4 linked regions of the Homo sapiens genome follow. The protein of the gene in region 1 purifies or fractionates together with the protein of each later gene. This does not show direct contact. Each region holds a gene or a part of one and is shown on either strand. Other genes may lie near its edges. The genes, in order: SATB1, BEND3, CRTAP and LEMD2.

The links.
Region 2: the proteins of SATB1 (region 1) and BEND3 purify together in Homo sapiens (affinity purification with mass spectrometry, with the first as the bait; one large-scale study listed by BioGRID). This does not show direct contact.
Region 3: the proteins of SATB1 (region 1) and CRTAP purify together in Homo sapiens (affinity purification with mass spectrometry, with the first as the bait; one large-scale study listed by BioGRID). This does not show direct contact.
Region 4: the proteins of SATB1 (region 1) and LEMD2 purify together in Homo sapiens (affinity purification with mass spectrometry, with the first as the bait; one large-scale study listed by BioGRID). This does not show direct contact.

What each region holds. Positions count from the first base shown.
Region 1 is NC_000003.12:18,414,610-18,419,387, forward strand, and holds part of SATB1 (DNA-binding protein SATB1), read right to left. Parts: intron 2,470-4,778; coding exon 2,293-2,469; intron 1,525-2,292; coding exon 1,398-1,524; intron 626-1,397; coding exon 502-625; intron 1-501. UniProt on the Homo sapiens protein: Crucial silencing factor contributing to the initiation of X inactivation mediated by Xist RNA that occurs during embryogenesis and in lymphoma.
Region 2 is NC_000006.12:107,097,728-107,102,505, reverse strand, and holds part of BEND3 (BEN domain-containing protein 3), read left to right. Parts: intron 1-3,209; 5' UTR 3,210-3,220; coding exon 3,221-3,257; intron 3,258-3,752; coding exon 3,753-3,955; intron 3,956-4,778. UniProt on the Homo sapiens protein: Transcriptional repressor which associates with the NoRC (nucleolar remodeling complex) complex and plays a key role in repressing rDNA transcription.
Region 3 is NC_000003.12:33,134,224-33,139,001, forward strand, and holds part of CRTAP (cartilage-associated protein isoform 1 precursor), read left to right. Parts: coding exon 1-42; intron 43-4,778. UniProt on the Homo sapiens protein: Necessary for efficient 3-hydroxylation of fibrillar collagen prolyl residues.
Region 4 is NC_000006.12:33,779,131-33,782,630, forward strand, and holds part of LEMD2 (LEM domain-containing protein 2), read right to left. Parts: intron 2,024-3,500; coding exon 1,947-2,023; intron 1,050-1,946; coding exon 970-1,049; intron 1-969. UniProt on the Homo sapiens protein: Nuclear lamina-associated inner nuclear membrane protein that is involved in nuclear structure organization, maintenance of nuclear envelope (NE) integrity and NE reformation after mitosis.

The sequences.
Region 1 (4,778 bases):
TTATTTTCATAATTATTTGTACTAAAATACTTTTAATTTTTTGGTAATGAGTAAAGTATCCAAGAATTGTACTGTTATTTTACTCAGATAGCACGGTGAAGTTTTACACATTAACACTGACACTGCCATTCCCTCTCACCGAAGCTTCGTGGGAGTAGTACCACCTCGACTCTTTCTTAAATAAGGGCATTCAGGAGAATTTAGCCATCATGCTAATAGCACTCAGAAGACAAATCTAAAAATTAGCCAGCGGAGTCTTCCACTGAACTGTTTTTCCTGTAAACAGTCCTTTGCCTCTTTTCCCCAAGGGAGAAAAAGCCTATAGGCTCTGTTCACAAGGAATCAGGCATATTTTAAAAGGTCACCAGTGGTCAAGTCACTTTGCATTTTTGGCAGATTCTTGCTTCAGATACCAGTTGCTTTAAACCAGGGAGCTCCATCAAACCTCAAATCAGGGTTGCCCATGATGTCTTATTATTTATTACATTCTATGCTAAGTACCTGTGAAAGGGGGCACTCCTTGGCCAATGAACTCTGATTCATATCTTTCAGTAAGTCCTTCAGAGCATTCCTCACTGTGGTGTGCGACCATTGTTCGGGAGGCAAGTCTTCTAGTTTGGGGCAACTATTTGAGACATAGATTAGAAAGGGGATTATTACAAGATTGCATCCCGCTGCAGAACATTCCTTTAAGACAGACAGATTTCATTTTGCGCATCAAACAGATGCATCTGGAGATTGCTCTCGGTCTCCTGATTGTTCCGATTAGTTAATTACTTTATACAACACATCTGCTGTATCGATGCATGAATTATACATCAGCTGCCTGTGGTGGCTATTTTTTCATGTTACTTCTACCTTCCTGCTCTGATGCGCTTGGGAAGACAATTTAAGGTGTACTGCTTTCTCCTGAGCCATCATGAAAAGCTTTAATGTATTAACCGATTTCCTTTCATTACTCTGTTCATATGAATTAAAAATCATAAAAAAATAAATAAATAAATAAGACTGTGGTAATAGTGAATAAGACAGTCTTTCACAAAATGTACACAGATGGCACTGTTCATGATATGCAAAAATATTTTTTTCTTAAGTAAACTTTATGTAAAATGCCTTCTTGTGATGCATTATTTAATTGACTAAACGTAAAAAGTCTTGTCTTTTGATAACCTGCACAAACCTACACATTTTTTGTGTGTGTGGGGGGGGGGATTGCTTTTAAATTATACATTGAAGTTAGGAAAAAAGGCAGAAGGATAGGGTAACAAAATCGATCTGTATTAACCTTTCTGAAACACAGACTAAAAAAAAATTGAAGGTCGACCAGAGAGAAATGCTTCATTTCAAAAGACCAGGTAAGAAGAATGTTTCACCCTAGATTTGCTGTCTTGACTCACCTGTGTAACTGAATTTTCAATGTGACCACATGATACACATCTTGAAGCATATCTGCTACTGTAGCATCAGGGGCATCTGTCACGTAAGACAGTGGAACTGGATTCCACTTTCCAACCTGGATTAGCCCTATTTCAGATAAAGAGAATATGTCACTAAATATTTTACCCTCAGATAATATATCTACTAGAAGGGTGTTCTTTTCTTTTCTACTACCCCTACCACAAGCAGTACCGTTATTTCTGTTTGAATGATTCCCTTCCCTCTAAAAGGCAGGTCAATGAAAATATTCACAGCTTAGCTTTCCAAATTGTAAAATTATGTAAATGACTGTAGGGTTGTTTATTATTTTGGAAATAAAACCCCATCAATAAAACCTATGCATAAGGCCACATTTTCCTAACTTACAGGAAGTTCTAATAAGACATAGCCGAACCAGTTCTAAATGGCTTTATGATTTAGATAAGATTCTCTATTGCAGTGGGAATCAGCATTGAAAAATACTTTGCAGCCCATAAAACCATCAGAAACAGAATAAAAGAAACAGAACTAGATATTCAGTCATAAATGCAAATTGACTCTCAACAGTCCATCTGCTCAAATACGCTCCTCACTTCCTTGTGGGTCCTCAGTGGAGCAGATTATTAAGGTCAATAAGCATACTAATGATTCAGCTGAAGTAATTTAAAAAAAAAATCTACCTCGACATTCCACATGAGCAAAATGTGTGTTAACTAAACCAAACTGAATTAAGCCAATTTTTTAAAGCCACAGCCTATAAGGAACCAATGTAATACACAGGCTACAGTTCTTTGAATAAAAATATTCAGTGCTTTCTCTGCAAGGTAAACAAAGAATGCTAAGCAATTTTTCCAACCCCACGTACACATTATTTACCTTTGGCCTGGGCAGCAGAGCTATGTGAATAACCTAGAGACAGCAATGCCATTTCGATCAGCTGGTTGAAAAGCATATCCTTTCTCACCAGCACAAATTCTGCATGCTCCTCCTTGCAATCATATTCAATGGCGTTTTCATAATGTTCCACCACACAGAAAACTGGCAGCATGGTTCCTATCAAAAAGATGAAGAAGAAGAGATGGAAAACCAACAATCTTCAGAAATACAGCTTGGGGGTGGCGGGAGGAAATATTAGCCATGAAAATAAATAATCACAAGAGATTCACTGTGCTTCCAAGGCAGACTGGGTACAGTACAGGCAAATGCACACAAATATATACATTCTCATATTATTTAAAGTCGTAACAGAAATATTTAAGTAGAATATGAACTTGGTCCTAAGGTAAGCTGTGCTCTAAATTAACAGTGCATTTTCCAAAAGCAATGAATGCAGAATTACCTTTCTGATCAAATAATAATGGTGACGAAAGAGAAATAAATGTATCTTCTCTAATTTGCTATGAGTAGTATACAGTATGCAAACATAACTCACCATTTATCTTCAGAAGAACCCACCTTTCTACTGCTTACATGATTTTGTTAATAATAAACTTTTCCTGGGTTTGTGTCCAAACAAATTATCTTCGACCACGAAATTTTCATTTTCTTCCTTTTTTAGATATTAACTCTAACTGGTTCCACAAATCATTTTCTTCCTTTTTTAGATATTAGCTCTAACTGGTTCCACAAAAAGTACTTAACCAAACTGGTGCTCATAATACACAATTTCAATATCTGCATAATGTAGAAAAATAACATTTGCTTTTATGAATACTCATTTAACCTACCTAACTAAAAAGAGAGCACGGTACCCATAAGTCTTTAAAATCAACAATCTTTGTTACAGTAAATAAGGTAAAAATGAGAGATAGAAAAGGAAACTGACATACTAGGATAAAGGAATCTGCATAGATTTGGTGTGCTCTCTCTTTATATATTTTAATCCAATACAGTAACTCAGTAGCTAGATGATTAATAAGCACCGGCCACACTACTATTAGAAAGAGGCTTCTTCTAGAAATTGATATTACGGAATGCTGTGGTACTCAAGGTGTTTATGCAGCGCACTGTCAGACTTCCAATGATAACGGAAAAGGGTTAAAAGCAGATGCATCTGAATTGTACTGTGGCAAACTGCCAGAAGGGTATCATCTTTAGCATAAATGATGACAAGGGTTACTTTAACAGGGCACCCAGGATCCACAATTAGTCCTACAATACTAATGCCTCTATAAGCTCTGTCCTCTGGACTCACAGAATCCTACCAACTTCTGAAGATGACTTAGTGCACACCAACCGTAGCTAAAAATCAGGATTTCCTACTGACACCAGAGAGGCCCTTCAAAGATTCTCTATTTGCTTGTTTCTGCTGAACAAAAGCCGGCAATAAAACAGCTACATCTTTCTACATGTGAGTCTTCACCAAAGCTTTAGTGAACTGTTCACAAGAGATTCTAGGTCTGACAAAACCCTTTAGGTTTACTTAGAAAAACTCACAAACTCATTCGGAGGTACCAATAGGCTAGGCATGAAAAACAAGCCGCAGAGCTTGCCAATATTTTTGTCATTCATTCAGCTGTTTTATACCAGAGAAAGAACCCGTCGGGGATCAGAAGACAACTTGGGGAGACCACAGCAAAAATAGCAATATGCAAACTGGCGATTCCTTCCTTGGCTTGAAGGTATTCTGGCAAAATCGCCTAAACAAATAAAACCATTCAATCCCTTTTTCTTAGTAGTGTTTTCTCATCTCAGCCATAATTTTCATTTAGCACCTATCAGACAGAAACCATGCACATGAAAAATAAGATGAAAATGTTAATAAAAACCCACAAAAAGACTTTAGTAATTTTGTTATTTGGAGTATCTGAGACCCTCCTACAATTAAACTGCATTTTTAGAATACATCCAAAACAAAACAAAACAAAACCAAAAAGCATTTGAGCAGGAAGTGAATTTACTGTACTTTTAGTTTTCCTCCTCCTGTCCTGATATCTTCAAAGAGTTGGGTAAGTACAACAAAAATGTACACATTCATTTTTCCTTTTGTAGGATGAATCAGATGTATTCTACAATATGCTTTTCCTTAGATCTATGAAATAACTGCAGGGTTTTCAAACTATTGAAATATATTGGATTTATTGTGGATTTTATTGATCATGTTTAGAGGTACCCTAAAATAATAAAGACGGCTATAAAGTGACAATAGTACTATCTAATTACAGACCTTCTAGCAAACTGTTGCGGTTACCCTCCCGTTTCTGGGAGTAATGCTGAACACAAGCCTTTTCTGAACTGTATGATTATTCGTGCTAGTGTTTGGCGAGAGTTCCAACTACAGCAACTTCATAACCTTCCAGCATTTAAAGGGGAGAGCACTGGTCACTGCTGAATGCTAAAAATACCACATGATTTAAACCTGA
Region 2 (4,778 bases), on another chromosome or scaffold:
CACCTCAGCTGCATGAGCCCTCTGGGGTTTCTGCCCACTGCAGGTGGCTGAGATGTGTGCTCTTCCTTCATCACTTTATAGGGGCTCAAAATTCAGAGGCCAAATTGCCTGCTGTAGGGTCACATGGTGGTGGTTCAGAAAATAGCCTCCTTCCAACCCCACTGGAAACAAGGAAAAATAAAAAATCAGAAAATAGGTTTTCTGCTCACCAAGCCACATTCCCGGCAGGCTCCATGTGGCAGCCTGGACTCCAGCCCTGCACTGCTCCCTATGTGATGGGCCTGCCAGAGACACATGGTTGGGCGAATATAATGGCAGATAAATAGACTGCCCTTCTCACCACCCATGGCCCTGTCTGCTGTGTTCTCTCATCGACGCCTGTTTTGTTTTGTTCTAGTATTTGCCCATCCTTTTAGTGCTTTCCACTTACCAGAATCTTTGACTCTTTGCAATTTTTCTTTCACCATGACCCTTTTCCTCCCCAAATAAACCAACCGCTGTCTCCTCCCTCTCTGCCTTTTCTCTGCCAAATGTAATTTGTTTTGTAAAGTATGTCCGCCTCTGACAGCCATCGTTTTGCCCCATCTGTTCTGCATCTCAGAACTCCCCTTGATTGGCAGGAATGGGTTATGTGACCATGGCAGTTTCCAAGGGCAGGGGCATTCAGGTGACCTGCAGTGTGTTTCCTTGAGAGGCCTCCTACCAGGCTGGGAATCCGGTCTTGAATTTCTGCCTGGCATTGTCCAGCCCTTCTAGCCACTCAGAGACACCCAGCTCAGATGATGGCGATCCAAAGTGAGGTGTAGTTCCTTGAAATACAGTGGAAGGAGTTGCTAAAATTTGACTCTGGTAAAATAGTTCTCGGACCCTTGAAGTTGACTTATTATTTGTTTTCTGTCAATATCACCCTGTGTGTAATGTTTTTTCAGGTAGGAGATGGCTTGGTGAGTAGGAATTATTTTCAGTTTCAAATCTCATTTTGGTTTTCATTCCTCTGAAAATTAGCAATACAGGGATGAAAAGAATTGTGCCTGTCTTGCACTATTGTGCACTGTTCTTGAACTAAAAATAGTGCTTCACATCATAAGCACTGTATGTGTTGCCATTATTAGTAACCTTTGCAGTGATGATTGTGCTCATGGATCACCCAGACACACTCTCCCTCTTGCTGCCATCCCCACCCCATTCACCTGTCTAAAACAGGTACTGTATGTCAAACACACACCATTCTGTGGCTACTCCTTGAATGGTTCACTGAACATTTTAGATGGCTTCATGCTTACAGAGTTTCTTTCTTTTTTTTTGAGACAGAGTCTCACTCTGTCACCCAGGCTGGGGTATAGTGGTGTGATCTTGGCTCACTGCAACCTCTGCCTCCCGGGTTCAAGCAGTTCTCCTGCCTCAGTCTCCCAAGTAGCTGGGACTATAGGCGTGTGCCACCATGCCCAGCTAATTTTTGTATTTTTAGTACAGATGGGGTTTCACCATGTTGGCCAGGCTGGTGTTGAACTTCTGACCCCAGGTGATTCGCCCACCCCAGCCTCCCAAAGTGCTGGGATTACAGGCACGAGCCACCATTCCCGGCCAGAAATTTCTTAAGAGATACTTCTTGGTCCTGCTCTCCACTCATCCTCAACCAAAATGAGAACTCTGTGTTTGTAGTCAGCTTAATCAGTTGTGGGGATCACAACTCCCAAGTGTCAACATTAAAGATTGCAATGTATATTCTCCAAATGTTACTACCTTTGTATCTTGTACTATTTATGTACATGCTGTCATGGTATTCGGAGATATCAGAGACTTAGTGGTAATTTTGTTTGTTTTGTTTTAGTGGTGCTTTGCCTCATGGTGTCAGTTCCATTCCAGCTGAGGCAGGCAGGTTTTGCTTCAGACCCTGCAGCCTGGAACAGAGCACTGCCCACCTTTCTAATGAAGCTTAGGCTGGGCACAATGGCTCACACCTCTAATCCCAGCACTTTGGGAGGCTGAGGTGGGCGGATCATGAGGTCAGGAGATCGAGACCATCCTGGCTAACACGATGAAACCCTGTCTCTACTAAAAATACAAAAAATTAGCCGGGAGTGGTGGCTTATGCCTGTAGTCCCAGCTACTCGGGAGGCAGAGGCAGGAGAATCACTTGGAGGCAGAGGCAGGAGAATCACTTGAACCCAGGAGGCGGAGGTTGCAGTGAGCCAAGATTGCGCCACTGCACTCCAGCCTGGTGACAAAGCAAGATTCCGTTTCATAAACAAATAAATGAAATAAAGTATTGTATTTAGCCCAGTAAGTCCAAAATATTATCATTTCAACATGTAATCAATATAAAGCAATTATTAGGACTGGGCACTGTGGCTCAGATGTGTAATCCCAGCACTTTGGGAGGCCAAGGTGGAAGGATCGCTTGAGGAGTTCAAGAGCAGCCTGGTCAACATAGTGAAACCGCATCTCTACAAAAAAATTTTTTAATTAGCTGTGGGTGGCGGCATGTGGTACCTGTAGTCCTAGCCATTCTAGAGGCTGAGGCAGGAGGATTGCTAGAGCCCAGGAATCAGAGGCTGCAATGAGCCATGATAGTGCTACTGTACTCCAGCCAGGGTGAAAAGAGTGAGACCTTTCCTCTAAAAAAAAAAAAATTACTAGTGAGATATTTTGCATTTCTGTTACTAAGTCTGAGATTTGGTGTGTATTTTACACTTATAGCACATCTCCATTGGACTAGCCACATTTTGAGTCCTTGGTAGCCAGGTGTGGCTAGTAGCCACCTTCAGGTCATGGGCAGCACAGTTCTCTTGACAACCGTAAGTCCTAAGATTTCAGGATCCATGGCCCCCATCCTTCAGCCTATTTGTTTTGTGGCTGGAATTTATAAGCATGGACTTAAAAGAGATAATTAAAATTGGGGTCTTTTTTAAGAGTTGATTTGTTCTTGTAATGTTCCCATGGCTCAGTAAGTGGCTATCAGTGGATGCTGTAAGACACATTCTGCTCACATAAAGTCTTGGAGAAGAGCTCCCAGCAGGGATGCACAAGGCCTGGCTGCTCCTGAGTGTCTGCAGACAAGATTAGGAGGACACATAGCTTCCACAGTGCTGTGCTGCTCTGTTACCTAGAGCTGGGGTTGGGAGGGTAAGAGGATTTTCTGTGGGTAGAGAAAATTAAGAAATAAATCAAGCAATAAGTCAACACATTGTCTTTGTCTTTTTATTTAGCGGAATAGAAGATGAACTCAACTGAATTCACCGAAGATGTAGAAGAAGGTAAAAAAAAAATGCCCTTTTTGAAAAATGTTTTTAACTGAATACTTTTGATCAGGTCATACATTCACATGGTCCAAAAATATACAAAGTTATATAGTGAAAAGTCCCCTCCACCCACACACTTGTTCCCCGGTTCCCATCCCCCTCCACCCACACACTTGTTATAAGCACCTTGTGTCACTTTTTAAAAATTACTTTTTTAAAGCACAAAAAGATAATATTTTATGTCTCTCCTTCCACTGTCTTCCCCCCCAAAAAAAGATGTTTAAACCAATTTGAACTAAATGCTCTTGGAACATGGCTTTATTGTACAGCACTAGTGCGGTGAGATAAAGATTGCATCGTTGGAAAGCTCAGGTTTGTTACAACTAGACATCATTATCTCAGCACTGGTGTCAAAGGGCGGCCCACAGACACCCTGCTGCTCAGAGAACCCTGCTGATCTCTGAGCAGCCCTGGTTTTTCCCACTGAGCCCTATTTCTTCTCTGACACAGTTCTAAAAAGTATCACTGTGAAAGTGGAGACAGAGGCTGAAGATGCTGCTCTGGACTGCTCCGTGAATTCCAGGACTTCTGAGAAGCACTCTGTGGACAGCGTCCTCACTGCCCTGCAGGACTCCAGCAAACGAAAGCAGCTGGTCAGCGATGGCCTGCTAGACTCTGTCCCCGGCGTGAAGAGGAGGCGGCTGATCCCCGAGGTGAGGGCCTAGCTGCTGTCACTCTTTGCTTGGGCTCTAACCCTCTCTGATTCCATGCTGAATCTCCCTCTTGTTTTGGGCATCCTGGCAACTGCTGAACCCTTGGGCATGGGAAGGTTTCATTTAAGCTATCCCATCTCTGGCTTCAGTTTCTCGAAAGTGTCTGTCTTTAACTGGAATTCTTGTTTGTGTTGGGATTCCTGGTGGGTAAAGGGAGCCTTCACATTGCAGCTGCTTTTGCGTTATTTTGCTGTGCTTTGTGGGGGAAAGCAGGAGCTTGCTGATAGTGAGGACGGTTAACGTAAGCCTACCACACTTGACATAGTAGCTGATTCTTGCAAAAGTGGGGCATTAGCTGGAGGTCAGGTCTTTTCCTAAATTAAATCTATCATTCACTTATTTAAATAGAGACTGGATCTCACTATGTTGCCCAGGCTGGTCTTGAACTCCTGGCCTCAAGTGATCCTCCTGACTTGGCCTCCCAAAGTGCTGGGATTACAGGCGTGAGCCATAGTGCACAGCCAACTCTTTGTTTAATTGGTTTGTTTTAACTCTCCCCTGTTGGATGTTAGGGCAGATCCAAACAAATTAGGAAGTTATACATTTTAGGGATTTGGTTAGGCTTTAATTTGCATAATGATGAGACTAAGATTTTAACCAAGATTTAAATATACATGTTTATAGTGAGGACCTACATTCCACATCATGGAACACTGAGTGATAGGTTTGTTGGGGTTTTTTTTTTTTTTTTTTTTTTTTTGAGACGGAGTTTTGCTGTTCTTGCCCAGGCTGGAGTGCAGTGGCGCAATCTCAGCTCACAGCA
Region 3 (4,778 bases), about 15 Mb from region 1:
CTGTATGACTTTGCTAAGGAAAATATAATGGATGATGATGAGGTAAGTTTTCATGCTTAGCACATGTCTGGTGGCTACGAGAAAATATTACTCACATCTTTGCTAGAATCACTGGAAGGCTGAGTCCTCCCTGAAGTAAGAAACAGAGGGGACCTTGAGAAAGACAGTTCCTGTGGGTGTTTCAGTGACAGTCAGAATGCTGGCATGGGAAAGAGCGGCTTTCTAGGAAACCTAGGCAGGAGTGCCACATTTCCTGATAGCGAAACGGGTGTGGGGCCACACTCCAGGAATTCACAGTGGTCATTCTTCATCTTTTCACTTTATATAAAAACAGTGAATTTTTAATTGCTCAGCACTCTGAAGAGACATGGATACTCACACCCCAATTTTTCTGCTAGACTATTGCTATTATTATTTTTTCTAAATTGCATCTTTACTGTAAGCATTTTGTCATTCTCTAGAATTGCTTGAAATTCCTGATTCCACCTTACTCAGCTGACCCCTTTTCTGACCCTGACTCAACTGGTTATGGAGTGGTCATTTTGTGATGAGTCTGGTCACAGAAAAGCCATCATTAGCGGTAGTATTTAGAGTATTTGTTTGGAACAAACTGGAAAATGCTTACTGAGAAAGCTGGGGACTTGTCAGCTATTGGAGCTCGAAGAGAGCTGTGAGCTTGCTCTGGTCTGATCCTTCGCTTTATAGATGAGGAGCATGGGGCCAGCAAGTTTCCTGAGCCTCCAGGTCTGCTCTTCCTATACCCGTTTTAGGTGAAGTACCTCTGAATAAGACATCTTCGTGGAATTTGTTTTCTGTCTATAAATATGTATGGGATGAACTCATCACTGGCATTAAACAACTGAGTCTCAGTTCTTTATCTATAAAATGGGAATAATAATACTGCCCTCCCAGGGTTGTGAGAATAAAATACTGTGTTGCATGTGGAAATGCTTTCTAAACTGGAAAGTGATGCAATGCCTATGTCTTGGTTTGGGTATCCTTGAAGCAGAGCCTGAGACAGGATCCCAAGATGCCACAGGGGCCATTCCCCCATTCCCTAAAGGAAGGAACACCAGCCAGATACCAACAAGATTGGCCACTGTGGTTTACAAAGTATAGCAGAGGCTGGGTGTAGTGGCTCACACCTGTGATCTCAGCATTTGGGAGGCCAAAGCAGGTGATTGCTTGAGACCAGGAGTTCAAGACCAGCCTGGGCAACATGGTAAAACCTCGTCTCTACAAAAAATACAAAAAAATTAGCTGGGTATGGTGGAGTGCACCCGTAGTCCTAGCTACTTGGAAGGCTGAAGGAGTCTGGGGAGTTTGAGGCTGATATTGCGCCATTGCACTCCAGACTCGGCAATTGGAGTAAGACCCTGCCTCAAAAAAAAAAAAAAGGAAAGTATAGAAAAATATATTTAGAAAAGGTAAGAGAAGTTGAGTTCCCAGTTATCTAGAGGCAAGCTAATATGGATATTTTGGTATATATCTTTCCATTTTTTTATTATTAAAGAAAAAATTTTATAGTTTTAAATTTGTTTTTCTACATATTTATTATAAACTCAGCTATAATTATGTCTCATGACTTTTTCACTTTATATTATTATGTGAGCAGTTTCTCTTGTTATATTTTTCTAAAACAGCTTTATTTAGATATTATTCACAAAAAATGAAATTCTCCTTTTTAAAGTATACAATTCAGTTGTACTTGTTATATCCACAAAATTTTGCATCCATCACTGTTATTTAACTTTAGAACATTTTTATTGCCCCCAAAAGAAACTCCATAGCTAAGTCACTTCCCATTTCTCCTCTGGGCCAACATTCCCACTCCTGCCTCCACCTCCAGCCCCTGGAAGACTCTAATCTACTTTCTGTTTCTGTGGATTTGCCTGTTGTGGACATTTCATATAAATGGAAATATAGGGTATGTGGTCTTTTGTGACTGGCTTCTTTCACTGAGCATATGTTTTCAAAGTTCAGCCATGTTGAACATGTTGCCTGTAAAATTTCCTCTGTACTACCAAGTAATATTCTTCTTTTGGATGTACCGCATTCTGTTTATCCATTCTTCAGTTGATGGATGTTTGGGTTGGTTCCACTTTTTGGCTATTTTGAATAATGATGCTATGACCATTTGTGTACAAATTTTTGTTTGAACATAAGCTTTCCAGTTTTTTATACCTAGGAGTATATACATAGGTATTATGTTAGGCCATTTTTGCATCACTGTAAAGAAATACCTGGCTGGGTGCAGTGGTTCATGCCTGTAATCCCAGCACTTTGGGAGGCCAAGGCAGGAGGATTGCTTGAGCCCAAGACTAGCCTGAGTAACATAGTGAGACTCTGTCTCTACAGAAAATTTAAAAGTTAGCTGGGCATGGTGGCACAGGAAGTGTGGCAATGGCATCTGCTTGGCTTCTGGTGAGGTCTCAGGAAGCTTATGGTCATGGCAAAGGGGGAGCTGGCGTATGTCACATGGCAAGAGCATGCCACACTCTTTTAAACAACTAGATCTTGTGTGAACTCAGAGTGAGAACTCACTTATTATCATGAGGACAGCACCAAGACATTTTTGAGGCATCCGCCCACCTGACCCAAATACCTTCCACCAGGCCCCACTTCCAACACCGGAGATTACATTTCAACATGAGATTTGGAGGGGACATATATCCAAACCATATCAGGTACATACCTAGGAATGGATTGCTGGGCCATATGGTAATGGTTTAACCTGTTGAGAAACTGCCAGACTGTTTTTCAAAGTGGCTGCACCATTTACATTCCCATCAGCAGTGTATGAGAGTTCCAACTTTGCAATATCTTCAACAAAACTTAATATTGTCTTTTTTTTTTAATAGCCATGCTAGTGGATGCAAGTAGTATTTCATTGTGGTTCTGACTTCCACTTTCTGTTGTTTTTCTTTTCTTTTTGAGACAGAGTTTTGCTCTTGTTGCCCAGGCTGGAGTGCAATGGTGCGATCTCGGCTCACTGCAACCTCCGCCTCCCAGGTTCAAGTGATTCCCTGCCTCAGCCATCCTAGTAGCTGGGATTACAGGCGCGCACCACCACACCCAGCTAATTTTTTGTATTGTTAGTTGAGATGGAGTTTCACTATGTTGGCCAGGCTGGTCTCAAACTCCTGACCTCAGGCGATCCACCCGCCTCAGCCTCCCAAAATGCTGGGATTACAGGCGTGAGCTACTGCACCCAGCTTGACTTGCACCTTCTTAGTGACTATGTTGAGCATCCCTTCATGATTGGCCATTTGTATATCTTTGAAGAAATGTCTATTCAAATCTTTTGTCCACTTTAAAATTGTTACTTATCTTTTTATTATTGTGTTGTAGAAGTTCTTTAGATATTCTAGTTATAAGTTCCTTATCAGATATATGAATTGTAGATATTTTCTCACAATTTGTGGGTTGTCTTTTCAGTTGCTAAATGGTGTCTTGAAGCACAAGTTTTCAAATTTGATGAAATTCAATTTATCTGTTCTTTCTTTTGTTGCTTTTGTGTTGTGTGTCATATCTAAGAAACCATTGCCTAATCCAAGGTCACAAAGATTTACTCCTGATTTTTACTCCTACGATTTTTGTAATTTTAACTCCTGCATTTAAATTTACAACCCATTTGAGTTAATTTTATGTGTGATATTAGGAAGAGGTCTAGTTTCATTCTCTTGCATGTGAATAGCCAGTTGTTACAGCACTATTTGTTGAAAAGACTTTTTCACCATTGAATTGTCTTGGTACCCTTTGAAAGAAATCAGTTGACCATAAATGTGAGAGTTAATTTTCCAGACTCTCAGTCTATACCACTCATCTTGATTTCTATCCTTAAAGTTAGTACTACACTGTCTTCATTAATATAGCTTTTTTTTTTTAAATTACGTGGACTTTCAACCAAGATTAGATTACTGTAGCTTTATACTATATTTTGAAATTTGAATTGTGAGTCCTCCAACGTTGTTCTTCTTTTCCAAGATGATTTTGGCTATTTTGGGTCCTGTACATTTCCATATGAATTATAGGTTTAGCTTTTCAGTTTTTGCAAAAGGCAGCTGGGATTTTTTTATAGGAATTCCACTGAACACATAAATCTCTTTGGGGAGTATTGGCTTCTTAATATTGTCTTCTAATCCATGAACATGAGAAGTCTTTCCACTTATTTGGATTTTTTAAAAATTTATTTCACAGTGTTTTCTTATTTTATTATTCCTAAACATTCTATTCTTTTTTAAAAAATTAAAATAAATTCTTTCCAACCCCTAGTATTCAAGCATTTTATTCTTTTTGATGCTATTATAAATGAAATTGTTTTCTTATTTTCACTTTTGGGCATATTCTAAAAGAATAGAAATACAATAGATTTTGTGTATTGATTCTGCAAACTTGCTGAACTTATTTATTAGTTTGTATGTGTATGTGTATTATTTTTCTTGCGTAATTGTTCTAGTTAAAACTTCTAGTACTATGTTGAATAGAAGCAGAGAGAGTGGGCCTGGCACAGGGGCTCATTCCTCTAATCCCAGCACTTTGGGAGGCTGAGGCAGGAGGATCACTTGAACCCAGGAGTTTGAGACCAGCCTGGGCAACATAGCAAGACCCCATCTCTACAAAAAATAAAAAAATTAGGCTGGGTGTGGTGGCTCACACCTGTAATCCCAGCACTTTGGGAGGCTGAGGTGGGCAGATCACCTGAGGTCGGGAGTTTGAGACCAGCCTGGCCAATCGGTCGAAATCTTGCTTTACTAAAAATACAAAAAAATTAGCTG
Region 4 (3,500 bases), on another chromosome or scaffold:
CAACATGAAAAGGTGAGTGTCATCATTCTTCTGTGTTAGCAGCTTCAGTGAGCGCTGCTGCTGAGGATAAAATCCGTATTCTCCTCCGCCTTTTCTAACACAGGAAAATTGCTCAGCTACTCAGGGCAGCTTTTTTTTTTTTTTAAGCCAACAAATTTTAATCGTGCCATGCATCCAGTTATCCAGCTTGAGGTGGAGCTGCCCGAGGGGCTTCTGCTGGATGCAGTGCTGATGGAATTAGTAATTTGGGTGGATTAGAGAGGAAAAGAACAAAACTCTAGAGACGTTTTAATATCAAGAGCTATAACCTGAACAGAGACCCCCACAAACACCGAGAGTGGGAAGTGGGGAAGTGATGCTGCTCTGCCAGCAGGGGACAGGTCTCTCAAGGCTGCCTGGCTGTTGGCTGACACGCCCCTCCCCCTGGGCTGAGCCGCCAGATACAGCCTTTCAGCCTCATGAAAGGGTTTGCTACCTTTTCTAACAGTGCTCACCAGTGATAAAAATGAGGCAGAAACTGCCTGGTCAGAATAAAATCCAGTATTTCCTTATGCGATTTCCATAGTAAGTAAAACCAACATACAGAAAGAATAATTTCATCTACAAATAAAAACTAGCTCCCGAGGAGGGGAAGTGCAGAAAAATGCCTTCCCCAACAAACCATGTGGTGTTGTTGATGAATGAGAAAGGCACAGACTGAGTTACCTGAGACAGGATTTAGCTGGAACACCAGGCTAACATCCTAACACCTGGATTTTGTGTCTCATCTTGAAGCTGCTCCTTACACTGCATTCCAAATGCTTCTTGCTTTTGTTGCCCCACTTCCATCCTAACCCACATGATTCTGCTGGGAGACCCAGCCTCCAGCTTCAGACCTGAGACAGCTCTGTTGGAGCACGGGTGTTAGCTGACGAGCGAGGACAGTGGTTGCAGGCACCCATGCTGCGTCGCCACCCTGCCCACACTCACCAGATGCCCACGTCCTTGTTACTGCTCAGTATCCAGGTCAGTGCGGCTTCAAACTTGGCGGAGGAGCTGCTGGTCACATTCTGTGGGAGGGCGCGGGAGAAGGTTAGTTCGGCGTCTGGGCGGAGCAGCTGGAACATTATTCTGCTGCTGGATTAAGGAAGCCCTCTCCCGTGTCCTCCACAGCCCCAAAACCCTGTTCTGCTAAAAGCACAGCAAAGTGGCAGGAAGGAAATCGGGGGTTGATGAAAGCCAAGGAAGAGGCTATAACCAGAGGAGGTGATGCGGAAGCACAAGCAGGAAAACAGTGCGGGTCTGAGGCGGCCAAAAGAATATGATTCTCTCGAGGATGGAAGCATCAGGCCAGAGAGCTGGCAGCTCATCTTAGGGTAAAGCGAATAACAGCGTTGTGGCTGGGGGTGGGTGAGCCCAGTGGCCGGTGCAAGTGGTCTGGCCTCAGGCAAGTCCCTGACCCTCTCCAGGCCTCAGTTTCTTCATCTGTGAAATGCAAATGGAACCAGATGACCCCTAAGTTACTGGACAGGCAGGCGACCTGGAATACCAGCTCCATAGTTCTATAATCTACCATCCTGAGGCCACACAGGAAATCAGACGGCCCCTGGGCAGTCTGAATGGTAATCATACGGGGGAGAAGGGACAGCATGTTTCTCCTGAAAGCCGAAGGCAAGACGAGCAAAGTGAACCAAGGGAGAAGCAGGTAACAGGCACACCTACAGTGCAGCAGTCAGGAGTGAGCCGCCCCACTGCACATGGCGGCCTGGCTCTGGGGCAGTCACTACCATGGCTGCCTTAACTGAAGGTAGTCTAGCACAAAAAGCCATAAACCAAACCTTAACTTAAGGTAGCCTAGTACAAAAGCCACAAAGCAAACAAAAAACAAAAACCCCAACAGGGCTTGAAAGACCAATAGGAAAGCACCAGGCCCTCCCAGGAATGTATAAGCACTGAAGCCTACTTACGGCTATATATTCTTGGGCTTCCATAACAGGAATGCATTTGCTTTTTAGATTCTCTGGATTTCCACACTCAAAATTACCTAGGAGAAAAAAAACCACACATGCTCAAACACAAAGGAAAAATCACTCTGAAACAGACTAAAAAATGCAGCAAGAATCAAGCCATCAGCTCTAATAAGGAGCATGTTGCCCAGCGGCTCCTGGCTTCTGTGGGGCATCTTCACTCTGCAGCAAGATCAAAAGCCACTTAGCTTGGATCGATTCCAGATCATTAAAACCTGACCTGCAAAGCAGTGTGGCATTTTGCATTAAATGACTAAAAAGCTGCCCAATAGCAAGGTCTCTTTGCAATTGATCCCTAAAAGAATCAGACAGATAGCTTCGGAAGGTACCGGAATGGCACTATAAATAAACACAGCCTGAGAAAAAAGAAAGGCAGGGAGGCCATGGGCACCACGGGGATTCTGACTCATGACACAGGCAGGCGACCTGGAATGCCAGGTCTATTGTCTTGAGGGGCCCCTTGGAGGAAGAGGATGTCTGTGTGCTGGGCAGTGGGGCCTCAGCACAGCACGCCAAGGGGCAGCTCCCCCGAGTGGCTTTGGAGGCCTGCTCCCATAGGATGGAGCTGGCAGCCTCCCACTTAGTCCTGCCCAACCTCCCCGGTCCAGCCCAGGGGCCATCTCCCCTGGGAAGCCCTCAGCCCCTGGGGGCCTTTTGTTTGATGAAATGGCCCCAGATTTGGTGACCTGCCATAGCCCTTGGTCCTCGCTCCTGTGCTGTGGTTTGCCTGACTCCCCGAGAGCAGGGAGGGTGCAGGGCCACGCACGCATACACTATTTAACACGTGTGCGTGGCCTGACTGCCCTGACCCAGCACAGCCTGGGGGACTTCGGGTGGCCAGTGAGTGTGTTTCTGCATGCTGGGGAAGGGAGCAGCTGAAGGTCATATTTTAAAACTTTGAAACTGAACTGAAGCCTGTCGCCTTCCCCTAACACAGCCAGATCCTCCTACTTCAAAGTTGATCTTGACCCCAGGGGTCCCCTGAGACACAGGTGGCTTCTAGCATCCTCCTTTTCCCACTAGGACTCTTCCTGCCCTTGCCAGGCCTGCCTGGACCACGTAGATGGCCTCTCGATTCGGTTCCTCCTCTCCCTTTCCCAATCCAGTTGTTTTGTCAATAACACTTGAAAATGATTCTGCTTAACTGTGCTACTCAAGCTGCTGCCGCATTCACCTTCCTGGCACCTGGCTCTCAGCATGATACTCCCTTGCTCAAAGCCTCTCTGGCCCTCACTGCCTGCCAGATCAAGCTCTGGTGGCCTGGCATCCAAGGCCATCTATGGTAGGGCCCAACCAACACTTCCAAACTTCATTCTCTCATCTTCCCCTTCCTCCATGAAGGTGCTGCTTCCCACTCGAGATGTAATTTCCTGCCGCTTTGCCTTGTCCTTCCCCACATACATGTAACCAGTCTTACCTGGGCTTCAGGGCCTGGCACAGATGCTACCTCCTGTGACGCTCTCCTGACTGCTCCAGCTAAAAGGCATTGTGCCT